2 separate regions of the Homo sapiens genome follow, and region 2 is linked to region 1. Evidence: fine-mapped expression QTL. A gene starts in region 1. The other region holds a variant in brackets. All regions are shown on one strand. Distances are from middle to middle.

Region 1 (8,316 bases):
AACCACAAAGCAGGCAGGTGAGTATCCTGGAATGAGTCCCCAGTGGCCTCCTGGGGGCTTGGAGAGGGGCCTCCAATTTCCTGGGCATTATATGTGTCAGGGGGTGGTAATCCCAGCCAGAAGCCTGGCATTCAGCCCCCAAGTCCTGACATCTTGTTCTAATCTACCCTGCCCGCTCATTACTGGGGCAATACAAGTCTCCATCCTTTCCCATCTGGTCAACACCCCCTCTCCGTCTTGGCCAGAGTAGATTCTCAGGAACCCAAATCCGACAACGAAGCTCCCCTGCTAAAATCTGGAGGTCAAAAGCCTGGGAGATAAGGGTTCCCCCTTCACCTGCAGTGGCCTTGGCCATCAGCCCAGCCCTGTCTGCGGATCCAGCCTTATCTAGGCCCCACCCTCCCTCACCCCACTCTCCAGCCGGCCAACCATCTCGTTCTTTGTTACCAGAACACATGCACTGGCAGGCTCTCCACCTTTGCACTTACCATTCCCTCCTCCTAGAAGAGCCTTCCTCCCTTATCCTTCCAGCAAATTCCTGCTCAACTTTCAAGGCCCAGCTCAAAGGTCTGCTCCTGCATGAAGCCCTGTCTCACCGCCGGTTCAGTCCAAGCAGGCTGCCATCATAGACCTACCATAAACATTTATTTCTCATGGTTCTGGAGGCTGGATGCCCAAGGCCAAAGCCAAGCTGCCAGCACCCTCAGGTTCTGGTGAGGGGCCTCTTCCCTGCTTGCAGACGGCCACCTCCTTTCTGTGCATGCCCATGACATTGTTCTTCTGATAAGGCCACCAATCCTATCAAATTAGGACCCTACCCATATGACATCATCTCACTTTAATGACTTCCTAAAAGCCTTATCTCCAAATACAGTCACATGGGGGTTAGGCCTTCAACATAGGAATTTGGGGCAGGGACACAGTTCAGTCCATAACACCTCCGCAGACAAATCTGATCTCTGCCTCCTCCACAGCGCCACCTTGTTCAGGGCAGGACTTCTCTTCATCACAGCACATCCACCCTTGATTCCCATTTGTGCCTCGTGTGCATTTGATGAATGAATGAAGTCCCATCCCCTACTCCTTCTGTCTCCTCCTTCCTCCCAGCAGCCTCTGTGTGACAACTTATCCGTCTCTCCCACTGTCCCAGTTCCCAGAGGCAGGAGCCACCCTCTCATGCATCCCTGGGCTCTCGGCACCCTGCACAGGGCAGGCCCGGGTGGGTGAATTCTGGTTCAATTGTAGGAGGACCTGTGGCCCCTGGGGTTGGCGAACCCCGGGCCGGGAGTCCCACTCCTTGCCATTGTCGCCCCCACACATTCATCAGCCCCCTATTGGACAAAGTCTTATTCCCATTACTGAGGTTTCTTCCAGTCCTACGGGGCAGAGTTCCCGATCTCTGGGCAGGCAACAGCAGCTGTGCAAAAAAGGCCAGACATCGCCTTCCTCCCACAACTCCACAGGCCGGGAACCGTGCATGTACAGTGGCGTTTCTTTGTTCCTAGGTAGGAAAAGCCATTAGTTTTAGCACCGCAGAAAAAAACGCAAATCGCTCTTGGTGCTTTTTGATTTCCGTCCAGGTCTCCCTCCACAGGTGAATGCTATATGAATGGGTCCTGCATTTGGCTCAGCAAGCAGCTCTCCGGCTCACATCGGGATATTTATTTAACGTATCTGGTTTTTACTCCCTCCCGTCCAAAAGCGTCAAGCTAAAAATATCTTGTTTATGAGCTCTGGACCGAAAACGAAGCAGTTGGGCTATTAATCACTGGGACTATGTTGAATAGGAACTTGATTAAAGCGCAGTGTGCGTTGCCCAGATGAAACTGCTTCTTTACTGCGATCGTCGTGGAAGCTCGGGGCTCTCCAGCGGTGTTTTTAGCTGTGCCCCCTCCGGGGCTCCTGGGCGGGTCGTGGCGCCTTGCCAGGCCTAAGGCCACTGTCGGTGAAGGGGGTCTTCCCTCACCTGTAGGCAAGCGCGCCTCTAGCCGGGACGCAGGCGGCGTCAGGCCTCAGCGCCAGTGGCGAGGGGCGGCGCGGGCAAGGACAGGAGACACTTGAGGGCTCCCAAGACTCCATCTGGGCCCAGCTGACGGTCCGTAGCCGCCACCCCGGCCCCGGTAAAGAATGCGAGGGACGCACGTGGCTGGGGGTCTCGGTGGCAAGCTCCTTCCCCCGCCGCGGTGAGAGCATTAGCTGCCGCACTCAAGGGGCCCCAGGGCCTGGCCGCCTCGGTCCCTAGGATCCCGGGGACTACAGCGCCCGGCGAACCACTGGGCAGAGTTCTCCCTGTGCGTGCTCGGACCTGGCAGCCCGGCGGCCTGGACACCCTCGCTCCCGCCGTTGGCGCCCACCTGAATGGGGAGGCGGGGGAGGAAGCGGTGGCTTCGGGCCTCGAGGGCTGCGGCCCCCGCCTCGGAATCCCGGCCCCAGAGTTAAGTTTGTCTCCTCCCTCGGTGCGCCCCTCCCCGTGCTCGCCCCGGCGTCCAGCTCCGCTAGTCTGGGGGGCCCCGCGGTCCCGCAGGAAAAAAAATCGGCGACTCCACGCCGGGTAACAGCGCCGGCCCCGCGCGCCTAGCAAGCCGCGCGCTCCGACCTGGAGAAGTAATTATAAAGAAAGTTTTCCAGCCCGGGCGGATCGACCGGCCAGGTCCTCCAGGCTCCCGGGCCGAGGCCGCCTCCGCTCCCCGCGGGGTCCTAGCGCCCTGCGCGGCGCCGCCCATGGGACCCCGGCGTCCTCCGAGAGGTACCTCTGCGCGGAATCACAGGGGTAGCCTGGAGATCAGAGCTAGGAGACGCAGAGCCACCGCGCTCAGGACCTCTCCGCGCGTCCCAAACGGCCCCCCACCGGCCCCAGCCCCGCTGCTCTGCGCTGCAGCCTCCCCGGGACGCGGGTCCGGGACAGGCCTGGTTCTGGCTTTGAAAGAGAATCCGCGCCCCAGCAGCTCAAGACCAAGACTCGCCCTCCGCCCCCCACCCCTACCCCGTGCAGCCTCGGGATACTCCTGGGCTCCCGGCCGTGGCTGGATACGGGCGCCTAGGGCAGGCAGGAGGAGGGGGCCCCCGCTACCGACCACGTGGGCGCGGGGGCGACGGCCGGGCCGGGGGCGGAGCTTGGAGCGAGCGCCGCGGCTCTGCTGGGCGCGCTGGAGGCGGTGGGCGTTGCGCCGCGGCCTGCCTGGGGAGCGCGGCGCTGTGCCGCGCTGGTTCGCCGCCCCATGCCGGCCGCGCGCTAGGACCCAGCAGGCGCCGCGCCGCCGCAGCCCGGGGACAGAGGCCGCCTCGGACTCTAGGGGGCGACGCGGCCTGCCGGGTATAAAAGCTGGGCCGGCGCGGGCCGGGCCATTCGCGACCCGGAGGTGCGCGGGCGCGGGCGAGCAGGGTCTCCGGGTGGGCGGCGGCGACGCCCCGCGCAGGCTGGAGGCCGCCGAGGCTCGCCATGCCGGGAGAACTCTAACTCCCCCATGGAGTCGGCCGACTTCTACGAGGCGGAGCCGCGGCCCCCGATGAGCAGCCACCTGCAGAGCCCCCCGCACGCGCCCAGCAGCGCCGCCTTCGGCTTTCCCCGGGGCGCGGGCCCCGCGCAGCCTCCCGCCCCACCTGCCGCCCCGGAGCCGCTGGGCGGCATCTGCGAGCACGAGACGTCCATCGACATCAGCGCCTACATCGACCCGGCCGCCTTCAACGACGAGTTCCTGGCCGACCTGTTCCAGCACAGCCGGCAGCAGGAGAAGGCCAAGGCGGCCGTGGGCCCCACGGGCGGCGGCGGCGGCGGCGACTTTGACTACCCGGGCGCGCCCGCGGGCCCCGGCGGCGCCGTCATGCCCGGGGGAGCGCACGGGCCCCCGCCCGGCTACGGCTGCGCGGCCGCCGGCTACCTGGACGGCAGGCTGGAGCCCCTGTACGAGCGCGTCGGGGCGCCGGCGCTGCGGCCGCTGGTGATCAAGCAGGAGCCCCGCGAGGAGGATGAAGCCAAGCAGCTGGCGCTGGCCGGCCTCTTCCCTTACCAGCCGCCGCCGCCGCCGCCGCCCTCGCACCCGCACCCGCACCCGCCGCCCGCGCACCTGGCCGCCCCGCACCTGCAGTTCCAGATCGCGCACTGCGGCCAGACCACCATGCACCTGCAGCCCGGTCACCCCACGCCGCCGCCCACGCCCGTGCCCAGCCCGCACCCCGCGCCCGCGCTCGGTGCCGCCGGCCTGCCGGGCCCTGGCAGCGCGCTCAAGGGGCTGGGCGCCGCGCACCCCGACCTCCGCGCGAGTGGCGGCAGCGGCGCGGGCAAGGCCAAGAAGTCGGTGGACAAGAACAGCAACGAGTACCGGGTGCGGCGCGAGCGCAACAACATCGCGGTGCGCAAGAGCCGCGACAAGGCCAAGCAGCGCAACGTGGAGACGCAGCAGAAGGTGCTGGAGCTGACCAGTGACAATGACCGCCTGCGCAAGCGGGTGGAACAGCTGAGCCGCGAACTGGACACGCTGCGGGGCATCTTCCGCCAGCTGCCAGAGAGCTCCTTGGTCAAGGCCATGGGCAACTGCGCGTGAGGCGCGCGGCTGTGGGACCGCCCTGGGCCAGCCTCCGGCGGGGACCCAGGGAGTGGTTTGGGGTCGCCGGATCTCGAGGCTTGCCCGAGCCGTGCGAGCCAGGACTAGGAGATTCCGGTGCCTCCTGAAAGCCTGGCCTGCTCCGCGTGTCCCCTCCCTTCCTCTGCGCCGGACTTGGTGCGTCTAAGATGAGGGGGCCAGGCGGTGGCTTCTCCCTGCGAGGAGGGGAGAATTCTTGGGGCTGAGCTGGGAGCCCGGCAACTCTAGTATTTAGGATAACCTTGTGCCTTGGAAATGCAAACTCACCGCTCCAATGCCTACTGAGTAGGGGGAGCAAATCGTGCCTTGTCATTTTATTTGGAGGTTTCCTGCCTCCTTCCCGAGGCTACAGCAGACCCCCATGAGAGAAGGAGGGGAGCAGGCCCGTGGCAGGAGGAGGGCTCAGGGAGCTGAGATCCCGACAAGCCCGCCAGCCCCAGCCGCTCCTCCACGCCTGTCCTTAGAAAGGGGTGGAAACATAGGGACTTGGGGCTTGGAACCTAAGGTTGTTCCCCTAGTTCTACATGAAGGTGGAGGGTCTCTAGTTCCACGCCTCTCCCACCTCCCTCCGCACACACCCCACCCCAGCCTGCTATAGGCTGGGCTTCCCCTTGGGGCGGAACTCACTGCGATGGGGGTCACCAGGTGACCAGTGGGAGCCCCCACCCCGAGTCACACCAGAAAGCTAGGTCGTGGGTCAGCTCTGAGGATGTATACCCCTGGTGGGAGAGGGAGACCTAGAGATCTGGCTGTGGGGCGGGCATGGGGGGTGAAGGGCCACTGGGACCCTCAGCCTTGTTTGTACTGTATGCCTTCAGCATTGCCTAGGAACACGAAGCACGATCAGTCCATCCCAGAGGGACCGGAGTTATGACAAGCTTTCCAAATATTTTGCTTTATCAGCCGATATCAACACTTGTATCTGGCCTCTGTGCCCCAGCAGTGCCTTGTGCAATGTGAATGTGCGCGTCTCTGCTAAACCACCATTTTATTTGGTTTTTGTTTTGTTTTGGTTTTGCTCGGATACTTGCCAAAATGAGACTCTCCGTCGGCAGCTGGGGGAAGGGTCTGAGACTCCCTTTCCTTTTGGTTTTGGGATTACTTTTGATCCTGGGGGACCAATGAGGTGAGGGGGGTTCTCCTTTGCCCTCAGCTTTCCCCAGCCCCTCCGGCCTGGGCTGCCCACAAGGCTTGTCCCCCAGAGGCCCTGGCTCCTGGTCGGGAAGGGAGGTGGCCTCCCGCCAACGCATCACTGGGGCTGGGAGCAGGGAAGGACGGCTTGGTTCTCTTCTTTTGGGGAGAACGTAGAGTCTCACTCTAGATGTTTTATGTATTATATCTATAATATAAACATATCAAAGTCAATGTCGGTGTCTTTTTAAAACCAGAAAGAAGCTACTTCCAAGGTTGTCTGTGGGCCAGGTCACATTTGTAAATAATACAGCATTTTCCCTGGCGGCAATCCTGACTTTCATGAGCTCTCCATCCATCCTGAGCCCCTCTTACCCTAAGGGGGTGACTTACTTCCCCCAGGCAAGACAAATAAATAGCAGAGGACAAGGCTCCAAATGGAGTATGTCCAGAGCCTGAAGGCAGTCTCTTGGGGTCAGGGGAGGGGGCTGAAGGGGTTACTGGGCTGAGGCCTTGGCGAGGCTTCTTATCTGCCCCGGGGAGGAGGAGAGGGAGTCCTCTGCCTGAGGGGTAGGCCTGGCTAAGCAGCCCTAGGCTCAAGGAGCCCTTTGTGCAGACTTCCTTGCAAATCACCTACAGCTGCAGCCCTGGCCACTCACACACACCGCAGCTCCAGATTCCAGCAGGACCCTCGGCCAGCAGGAAGAGGCCTCCAGTGGTAGGACCCTCCAACCCTCTCCTCTTTCCCTAGACCATGTGGCTACACCCTACCCCTGCGAGGCCCGAAGGCAGCCTGAAGAGAGAGACCCCTCCATCCAGCCCTCCACACCTGCCCAGCCCCAGCCCTCACAAGAAAGGGGGCTGAGGCAGGCCTGCAACAGGGGTCTGGTCCTGCCCCACACACTGGCTGTTCAAGAACCCACCCAGCATCCACACTCCCCACTGCATTCATCCCAGACCCAGCAGGGGACTGAGTGCTGGTGTGCCCCCAACTCCAATGAGCACCCTGTAAGGTCAGGCACTCCGGCACCCCCTTAGCAGCAGTGACAGCCAAGCAAGGGAGGGCAGCCCTTATCCCTGAACTAACAAGGCCCGGGAGAAAGAGGCCCAGGAGGCTGATGGTGCTTTTCAGATTTTACCCTCACGGAGGGTAAAAGATAAATTGCACTTTTCTTTTTTTTTTAACTCTGTACCGAGAGAATGTTCACTGAGTGGCTTACTGTGTGTACCAATGCGGGCTGGGGCATTTTCGAGAAATTACACATTCCTTTTACACTCTGGAAGCTTAGCTTTACCTGCCTGCGTGGTTAGCTGGCACCCCTTCCGGCCCCCCACTCTGTCCTGTGTCTGGCCGCCTCCTCACCCACGGCCGCCCTTGGCAGAGGAGAGGCCACGAGCCCAGTGAGGAGGCGGCGCCTGCCCCGCCACCCTGGGAACAGAGGAGGCAGAGCCCCGCCGCGTGCCCCGAGGCCTGGGGCAGGTCGCAGCTTGCTAAGCCCCAGCAAACCCTCTGAGTTCAGTGCTAATTCCAGTTTTTCTTGTTTGAGGGGGCTGATCCCTGGCTTCCCCCTTTCCCCCCAGAACAGGTCCTAGGACGGGAGGGGGTGGGGCGACCCTCCTGCCCTCACTCCTTCCCCTCCTCTCTGCTGTGCCAGCCCGCTAGGGGCTTCCTCTTTTAAAGCTGATGGCTCCCGGAAGGGATCCCTCCTACCCCGAGTCCTCCTCCTGGTCCTGAGTTCCAGGGTGGGCTTTGTTAGGGACAAGAAGGATCCAATCACATCCAGCCCCAGGAAAGGGATGAGGAGGGCGAGGCCCCCGGGGGGGGCCAAAGTAGAGGGGAGGAAGGTCTTTTGGGCGGCATGGGGTGAACCTGCCCAGCATGTACCCCGTGTCCAGCTGTAGGGGCTTCCCGGGAACAGAGTCACCCTTGGCCACCCACCGCTTCCTGCAGGGTTCCTCACAGTTCCCCTCCTGACTACAGCCTTCAGGAAGAACCATTCCAAGAGCCCAGCACTGAACACACCTCAAGTATTTATCAGATGCCTACTGTATGCCAGGGCCTGCGCCAAAGATGGGGCACTGGGCTGGGAACAAGCCGACTCTGCTCTGGCTCTTGGGGAGCTCACACCCTTGAGGCCCTAAGCTGTGGTTTAAGGTTGCCAAGTGCAATGAAGGGGATCTCAGAGTGTGAACAGGGTCCACCAGGGAGGGCTTTATGGAGGCAGCAGCTTTGATGAAATACCTGGGGAGGGTGGCCTCCTGCTGGCCCCAGTCCCAAGATGCCTGGATGCTTCTCCTTTGCCCTGATCGATCTCCCCTTGACATGTAGCACCTGACTGCAGGGACCTCGCCCCCCTTGCTGCGCCACTCCTGAGCCCTGTGTCCCGTGACAGCGCTGTTCAGGGTTAGCTGGCCTTCAAGGAAAGGGCAAGGGTAGAAGGGAGGGAGGCATCTCCTCTGCTGCCAGATGCGTCCTGATGGCTTAGTGCTGTCACGGATATTACTGTTATCTCCTGGATCTCCTGGGAATCTGTGAACGTGGGGTTTGGCCCTGACACCTGCGATGAGCCACTGGGCCTGGTGAGGAGTGTCTGCCCCTCCCAGC
Region 2 (8,316 bases), 34 kb after region 1:
GACCCCGTCTTCAAAAACAAACAAACAAACAAACAAAAAAAAAAACAGAAAAACAGAGAGGAGGCGGGGGTAACTCTGAATCCAGGAGATAAGGGCTTAGTTAACTGGTTAGTTGGTTAGATAGTAGGTGAGTTTGTTCACTCATTTGTGTCCTCCACTTGGGCTGGAGATGGAGTGACTCTGCTTCCTCCTCCGAGCAGCTGCTGGGCCCTGAGGGAGGACTGACCAGGCTGGCCCTGAACCAGGTGGGAAAACATATTTAATTCTCACCCTGCACCAGGAATCAGCCCATTACAGTCCCCAGGCCAAATACAGCCTGCCACCAGATTGGAAAACAATCTAAAGAAGATTTCATGACACATGAAAATGATATGAAATTCACGTTTCAGTGTCTATAAATAAAGTTTTATTGGAACACAGCCACACCCATTCATTTATGGCTGATTTTGCCCTGCAAAAGCAGTTGAAAAGCTATAGCAGTGACTGTCCGGTCCACAAAGCCTAAAATGTTTACCATCTGGCCCTTTGCAGAAAAGGTTTGTTGCCTGGTATCCTAGGCTCTCCAGCCACCATGCACCCAGCTGTCGCCTCTGCTCCAGCGCTGTTTCCGGTTTATGATGTGGAGTGAACAGAACCTCCCTCAGAGCATGGCGGTGAGGACTCCAGGTTTACCGTCGGCTGCTGGGCGGCATGGGTATCCCCAGGTCATGCTTTCTTAACTCCAATACACAGAAGCTGAGCACTTGTAGAGGCTGCTCTGGGCCTGGTAGAGGGCTGGCCTGATACCCAAGGTCTGCCCCCCAAGGGACACACACGGAGTTGGGGCATGGAGACCATGAAGTTGGAGGGGCACAGAGGAGAGACAGGAGCCTGACCTGGAATGCACAGATGGCTCCCAGAGGGAGTGATACTCAAACTAAGTCTTCTTTTAATTTTTAAAAGACAGAGTCTCTCTCTGTTGGCCAGGCTGGAGTGCAGTGGCTCACTGCAGCCTTGAACCCCTGGGCTCAAACAGTCCTCCCACCTCCACCTCCCTAGTAGCTAGGACTACAGGCATGCACCACCATACCCAGCTTATTTTTTAATTTTTTGTAGAGATAGGGTCTCACTATGTTGCCCAGGCCAGTCTTGAACTCCTGGGCTCCAGCAATCCTCCCAATGCAGCCTCCCAAAATTCTGGGATTACAGGCATGAACCGCCACATCTGGAAGCTAAGTCTTAAAATATAAGCAGAAATTATCCAGGAGGAAGGAGCAGGGACAAGCCTTGCAAGTGGAGAGAACAGCTTCAGCAAAGCTCAGAGGCTGAGAGTGGCAGGTCTGGACCTGGTTGGTGGGGAACTTGTAGAACCAGGTGATGGGGGGCTGTGGGCAATGAGAGCTCACCCTTCATCACCAGCCCCACCCACCACCTGGGTTTGGCCCAGGCTGGCAAGGGTGCCTGCCGAAGGCAGATATTGGCATCTGGCAGGGTGAGGTGGGGCATTGAGGGCAGAAGAGGGGGTGCCTTCAGGACCCCACCGCTGGCCAGCAGGGACACTGCAATTGGAGGAGCCAGATGGTGGGCAGGGCCTGGGGGCTCATCCCAGCAGGGCTGGGGTGCCAGGGCTGGGGCCGCCTGGTCCTGCCCCTGCCCCTGGGGCAGCCGGCAGAGTCCAGAGATGAGGCAGGCTGCCACAGGCGGGTAGCTGGCAACAGAGGCCTATTCTTCAGGATTTAAAAAGTCTCAAAAGGCGTCCAACTTTCCTTCGTTAGATGCTCCGGGATGTTTCCCCGTCAGAGGCTGCTCAAGATACCGGGCTGATAAGGGCCCGATTGAAGGAAGCTTAATTATGGCCCCGAGATGTTGGGGTAAACAGTCGGGAGTGTTTGTTTTACCGCCTCCTCTCTGTGCTAATGGGGGCACAAGCTAGGTGCCAGCTAGGGGGACCCAGTGACCCCAGGCTTTGTGGGTTCCCCTCACTGTCTCCCCATGGAGCGGGCCTTGGGGAGGGAGGCCGCTGGCCAGAGTTCGGCATCTCTGCAGTGTGGGTGCCAGGCTCCACAACCTCCTGCCCATTTGGCCACAGGGTACTCACCTGTCCGTGACAAGGATGGACATCGGGCATTAAAGGAGCTGTCCGTGTTGGTGCCTGGCATGGAGTGAACGCTGGGTGAATTCTGGACAGCAGCGGCAGCCTGGGGCTAGGGGCAGCTGGTAGCAGGAGTTTCCCTGGCGCTGTCCTGACCTTGACCCAGGCCACAACCCCCCAGAGGATGCATCTGGCTCCTCAACTCCATCCCGGGACCCCTGGATGGGCAGGGAGGTAGACCGGGGCTCGGCCTCTCAGCACCGTCCCCCATTTACCCCCACACCCCATCCCAAGGCCAGGATGTTCCTGGGGTGCCCAAGCCTGGTAAAGCACCCCTCCTGTGGGCATCACAACTCCAGGGGATCAGGGGCCACCATCCTGTGTGCCCTCCCTGGCGTGTGCCCACCTCCTACGCCCTCCCCCAACACCCACCACAGGCTCCCCCTGAGTGAGGAGTCCCAGGAGTAAGGGGAGCCCACTCTGTCACCCTGCACTCCCTCGAGGGCCCAGGGGCTCCAAAGGGCACAGCTCAGCTTTATTTAAGGGAGCAGCTCTGCTCAGGGGAAGGGGGCAGGGGGAGTGGGAGGAAAAGGATGGTGCCCCCTAGACATGCGTAGAGGCACACTCACCCAGACACACACACACACACACACACACACACACACACCCTCACCATGTACTGCCCAGGCCGGGCCAGGCCTTCTATTCCCTCGGCATCCAGGAATCTGCAGCTCTGCTCCCTGGCAGGCAGGGGTCACCGGCTCAGGGGGTCACAGGCTCAGGGCACCCCCCTACCCCGTGTGTGTGTATTTGCTCATCCACACACATAGGCCAACACGGTGCCCGTAAGTGTCTGCACCATGTGCCTGGGAGGGAGCAGGAGGAAGGGGAGACCAGGCAATCCATATTTTGGGTCCCTTGCGTGAGGCGGGAAGGGCACAAGGGGGCCGTTTAGGGTCACTCCAGCAGGACCCAGGCCCTCCGTGGCCTGGGCAGGTGCTCACATGACAGGCTCCATCGGAGGAGCTGTGGGAGTCTCTTGGGAAAGGGCCACAGTTCACCCTTTGGCAGATGTCACCGCCCCCAGAGGCTCGGAGCCCCCCTCGCTCTGTGGCTGTCCTTCAGGCTGGGGTGACCAGCCCCCCGCCAGGCCTTCAGCTGAGACCAAGAAGCCATTTTGGTCCGTGATGAGAAGAGGAAGTTCCTGCAGCCCCAAAACAGAAACAGGAAGCTGGGAGGGGGGCACAGGGATAGGGAACGGGAAGGGGACGCAGGCACCCGGCAGATGCACCCCAAATATGGGGCCTTCCTGGGGCCCACAGCAGCAGCCATGTCTGGGTGTCTCTGCCCAGTCCCAATGCTGTGGGCCTCATCTGGGCCCAGCTGTGCCCACCAGGAGGGCAGACTCCCTGGGGACCTCAGATGCCCGCCC[G/A]CTCCCTGCCTGAGTGGCTCAGTTGCCCAGGCTTATCTGGCTCTGACTGAGAGGGCTCTGTGAGTGGCTGGAACCCCTCTGTCCACCCAGATGTGCCTGGCCACGTGCCTCTCCTTGGCCCCCAAGCGTAGCCCTGTGGGATTCTCCGCAGCGCTGGCCTGACTCCTTGACTCAGCAAGTCCAGGTCACCCTCTGTCCCCACCTCTGACCGAGCCCCCTGGTCGTGAGTCTGTGCGGCCGCCTGTTGGGTTCTGCTGTTCGCCACTGAGTCCCAGCCCTGGCCGTTTCCCCAGCTGTGATGTGACAGGGTCCCAGGCCCTCACCCAAACTTGGTAACAACACTCAGGACTGCCTGCTCAGCAGAGGTGGAGCCTGGACTCTGTTCCCCGGGGCCCCCTGCCTCACACTGTGTCCTGACCAGCCTGCCCTTTGCAGACCCCTCCTGCTCTGTGAGATGAGAGATGGAGTGTCTGAGAAACGTGCATGGGTCCCAGCCCGTTGTGCCCCCAAGCGGAGGGACGACAGGATCTAGAACCACGCACCAACCTCCGGAAGTGGGGCAGCTCCCAGTTCACGCAAGGGCGAGCTAGGCTGGGGCCACGTGGAAGGCAGGACAGCAGCTCCCACTCAGGGTGGGCATTGCCTGTGGCTCCTCGCTGGGTCTGGAGGCTCCTTCAGGAAGACTCTGGGGGTGAGGGAGCGGGGGCGGGAGTCAAGGGACCAGAGAGGCACATGTCACCAATTTCAGTTCTGCCCCAGCTGGCCTGAGGCAGCTCGGGACTTCCCAGGGTGGAAGGATAGGTCCGGGGGCCAGGCTACTTGGAGGCAGGGCCAGGTCTTGAGGACCCCCTCCCCAGCCCAGCTGTCTGCCGGGGAGGCAGCTCTGGGTTCCTGGAGTGGGCTGGCTACGGAGGTGTGTGCCTCCCTGGCGGCCCTCATCTCTCCCGGAGCCCTAGAGCAGGTCTTTCTAAGACTTCCCACTCATCAGCCCCGGCCCAAGATTATCACTACAAAAGACGTCCTTGGCCCACTGTCCCCTCAAAATGAAAGCTTTAAGAACAGCTGCCCAGAGGTGTCTGAGAAAAACTCCAGGATGAGAGTGAGGGGTACCAGGCCGTCAGCTCTCCCCAGGCTGAAGGATGAGGTGGAAACCACGAAAGCCCCCAAAACAAAGCCATCTTCTCCACACCTCCAGGCTGTTCCCTAAAGAAGGAAAGCGGGGAATGGGGTGGGGAGGGCGAGTGGAGCCCCCGCCTCGGGCGGTCAGCACCGGCGTCAGCAGGGAAGCAGGCCCCTGGCCAGGGAGCGCATCTGACCGGACCGACCGTGTTCTTGGGAGATCAGTTGTGAAACTTGCATCAAACCCCCAAACCACAAAAACGGCCAGTTTTCCCAGCTCTGTTCTCATGCTTCTCAGACCAGCCGAGGAGTCTTCAGCATCTCCAGCCGAGAGAAGCCAGGCCAGCTGCCAGCGCCGGGGGAGGAGAAAACCCCAAGTGCCTGGAGACCCGAGCCCCAAGTTTGCCTGAAGCACCCTGCTCCCTTCAACGAGCCTGGGAATGTGAGGTCTGGAGAAAGGGTGAGGCCTGGGCCGGCTCCACTGCACCTGGAGCCGGGTGCAGTGGCTCACGCCTGTAATCCCAACACTTTGGGAGGCCAAGGTGGGAGGATCGCTTGAGCCCAGGAGTTCAAGCACAACGTGGGCAACATAGCAAGACCCTGTCTCTACAAAAAATACAAATACTAGCCCAGTATGGTGACACATGCCTGTAATTCCAGCTACTCAGGAGGCTGAGGTGGGAGGATCACTTGATCCCACTAGTCTGAGGCCAGCTTGGGCAACATAGTGAGACCCTATCTCTATAAAAAATTAGCCAGGCATAATGGTGCTCACCTGTGGTCCCAGCTACTCAGAAAGCTGAGGCAGGAGAATCACTGAGTCTGCTAGTTTGAGACCAGCTTGGGCAACATAGTGAGACCCCATCTCTATAAAAAGTTAGCCAGGCATGGTGGTGCATGCCCGTAGTCCCAGCTACACAGGAGGCTGGGGCGGGAGGATCACTGGAGCCCAGGAGTTTGAGGCTGCAGTGAGCTGTGTTCGTGCCACTGCACTCCAGCCTGGGCAACAAAGCAAGACCCTATAATTAATAAATAAATAAATAAATAAATAAATAAATAAATAAATGGAAAAAGAAAACTGGAAATCAGAATAGAAGGACCCAGAAGCTGCCAGGGCCACCTCAGAAAGAATTCTGGAACACTGTTGCCTTGGGAAGATAACATCTGGCTGATGGAAGGTCAGAGGCAGGTTACCAGGGAAAGACTCCTGTTTGAAAAGAAGGTCACCGAGGCATCCCTCGTGTCTTCCCACTGCATTTGGTGCACAGCACATGACTCTGGTTCTCTCTCATTCAGGGCCTGGTTATAGCAGAAAGTCTGGCTCTCACTGAGCAAGGACCCAGATGGGGACACTCAGAGAGGTGGGAAAGAATCTCCCCCACCCCGCCAAGGAGGGATGCAGCTGTGCTGTAAGTGATGGTTAAAGCCATCTTTAAGAGAGGCAGGGCGCCATGGCTCACTCTTCTAATACCAGTGCTTTAAGAGGCTGAGGCAGGAGAATTGCTTAAGGCCAGGACTTTGAGACTAGCCTGGGCAACACAGCCATCTCTACAAAAAATACAGAAATTGGCTGGGCATGGTGGTGCCCACCTGTAGTCTCAGCTACTCAGGAGGCTGAGGTGGGAGGATCACTTGAGCCCGGCAGTTTGCAGCTGCGGTGAGCTATGATCGCACCCCAGCACTCCAGCCTGGGAGACAGAGTGAGACACTGTCTCTAAAAAGAAAGAGGGAAGAGAGAAGATGCCCGTAGCTGCTTTAGGTGACAAACGGCCTTGAAGCCGTGAAGGCCCACTCCCTTCCACAGGGAATGCAGCCCCATCTCCGCAAGCCAGTCTCTGAGGCCACCCCTTCTTGCTTCCTCCGCCAGATACCCTGCCCAGCCCCCTCCCCCAAAATGAAGCCAGGTGGGGACCCTCTGTGCTGCTGGCCTCCAGGCCCTGCCCTGCTGCCCCTGCCTTCAGCCCCTACCACCCACACCACCCTGAAACCCTTCCTCTCCCTGGCCACTGTACCTCTCCCAGACCGGCGGTTTGCCTCCAGCTGGAGCCTCCTGGAGGCTGGGAGAGAACCCCTCGCCTGGGTTAACTTTAGTGGTGATTCTAGAAGCAGGACGCTGCTGAGGAAAAGGCCAAACTGTAGCTTTGTCCGCTCCACCCCAAGCCTTTGCCTGAGCTGGAACTTTCCTCTAACAAGCCCTGTAAGAGGAGCTTCACACCATGCTCCCTGTGTGAACCATGGTACCTGTGAGTATTGGCAATGATATTATGCCAATGTGCTATTATGTGCATTTAGCATAAAAGCCACTTGTAAGTAGTCACGTGGCAAGACCACGGCTGGGGCCCAGAGAATCCTGCTGGGGGCCCATAACATGGGATTGGCCCCCTGGAGCTAAGGCCAGGGCTGCAGTGCAGGAGGCCCACACCCGCAGGGGATCCTGCCCGAGGGGCAGGGCTGGATGAGAGGCAGTGAGCCCAGAGCATAGACAGAAGACAGTGGGCGTGTGTGTGTCTTGGTCACTGCGTGCGTCTCTAGGTAACTTTGGTTTGCACGTTTGTGAGGTTGAGCGTCTGTCAATGTGAGTTTCCGTGCATGGCTGGTGACTGCATTTGTGTGTCTGTGCATGGGCCTGGGTACATCCGTGTCTCTCGGTGTGTTTATGGATCTGTTCATTCAATCACTGCCTGGTGCGGCCAGGCCCTAGACAGACTGGAGGGCTCGGTCCCTGCCCCATCAGGCCCACAGTCTGGCAGGAGGTGAGCAGGAAGTAGGAATTACACCCATAATCCCTAGGCAGGATGGTGACAGGGGGAGCTCACGCCTCGAGGGTGGAAGCCCCGAGACAAGGGACCTGCTGCAGCTTGGCACTCGGGGACCCTGGATGCTTTCATGAAGGACAGGAAAGCCGAGTGCCATAGGAGGCATGGGAGTTGTCATGGGGAGGAGAGTTTTCCAGGCAGAGGGGAGAGCATTTGCAAAAGCCGGGGCACTGAGGAGGGGTCGAGGCAGAACTGCAGGTGCTAGGAAGCCAAGGGGTGTGGGAGGTGAGGGCAGGAAGGACAGGAGCTAGACACGCAAGCCTGGAGGCCACCATGATAATGGTGGCTGCTTCCTAGAACCGTGGGAAGGTGAAGTTCGGAAAGCAGCCCGATCATGTGGTCATTTAATAATACGACCATTCTGGGCCGGGCACGGTGGCTCACGCCTGTAATCCCAGCACTTTGGGAGGCCAAGGCGGGCAGATCACGAGGTCAGGAGATCGAGACCATCCCGGCTAACACAGTGAAACCCCATCTCCACTAAAAATACAAAAAATTAGCCGGGGGTGGTGGCGGGCACCTGTAGTCCCAGCTACTCGGGAGGCTGAGGCAGGAGAATGGCGTGAACCTGGGAGGCGGAGCTTGCAGTGAGCTGACACTGCACCACTGCACTCCAGCCTGGGCGACAGAGCAAGACTCCATCTCAAAAAAATAAAATAAAATAAAATAATAATAATAATATGGCCACTCTGTTGGCTAAGAGCCTGGATGAGGCCAGAGCTGCCATCCCATGAAGAGAGATGGTGGCTGGGGACGTGGGGCGGCAGGGGAAGACGTGGACAGGTGCGGGCATGCAGAGGCAATGGAAGGGTGACAGGCAAGGCCTGGCGACGGCTCAGGTGTCAAGGGCCAGGAGGTGTACATGCTGTGTGTGCACA

Evidence for each region. PIP is the estimated chance that this variant, and not a neighbour inherited with it, causes the effect.
Region 2: its variant is fine-mapped to the expression of CEBPA in whole blood (TOPMed, PIP above 0.99).

What each region holds. Positions count from the first base shown.
Region 1 is chr19:33,297,563-33,305,878 of GRCh38, reverse strand. CEBPA (CCAAT enhancer binding protein alpha) reads left to right here and starts at 3,345. Exons shown (of 1, transcript NM_004364.5): 1 at 3,345-5,945. The coding sequence starts at 3,465. The coding sequence ends at 4,541. CEBPA-DT (CEBPA divergent transcript) reads right to left here and starts at 3,058. Exons shown (of 1, transcript NR_026887.2): 1 at 822-3,058. RefSeq lists silencers at 2,605-2,864, 2,945-3,514.
Region 2 is chr19:33,263,753-33,272,068 of GRCh38, reverse strand. No RefSeq gene overlaps it. Among named protein-coding and RNA genes, the nearest start is that of CEBPA, 35 kb to the left of the region's middle. The variant G/A (reference allele first, on the strand shown) is at 3,504.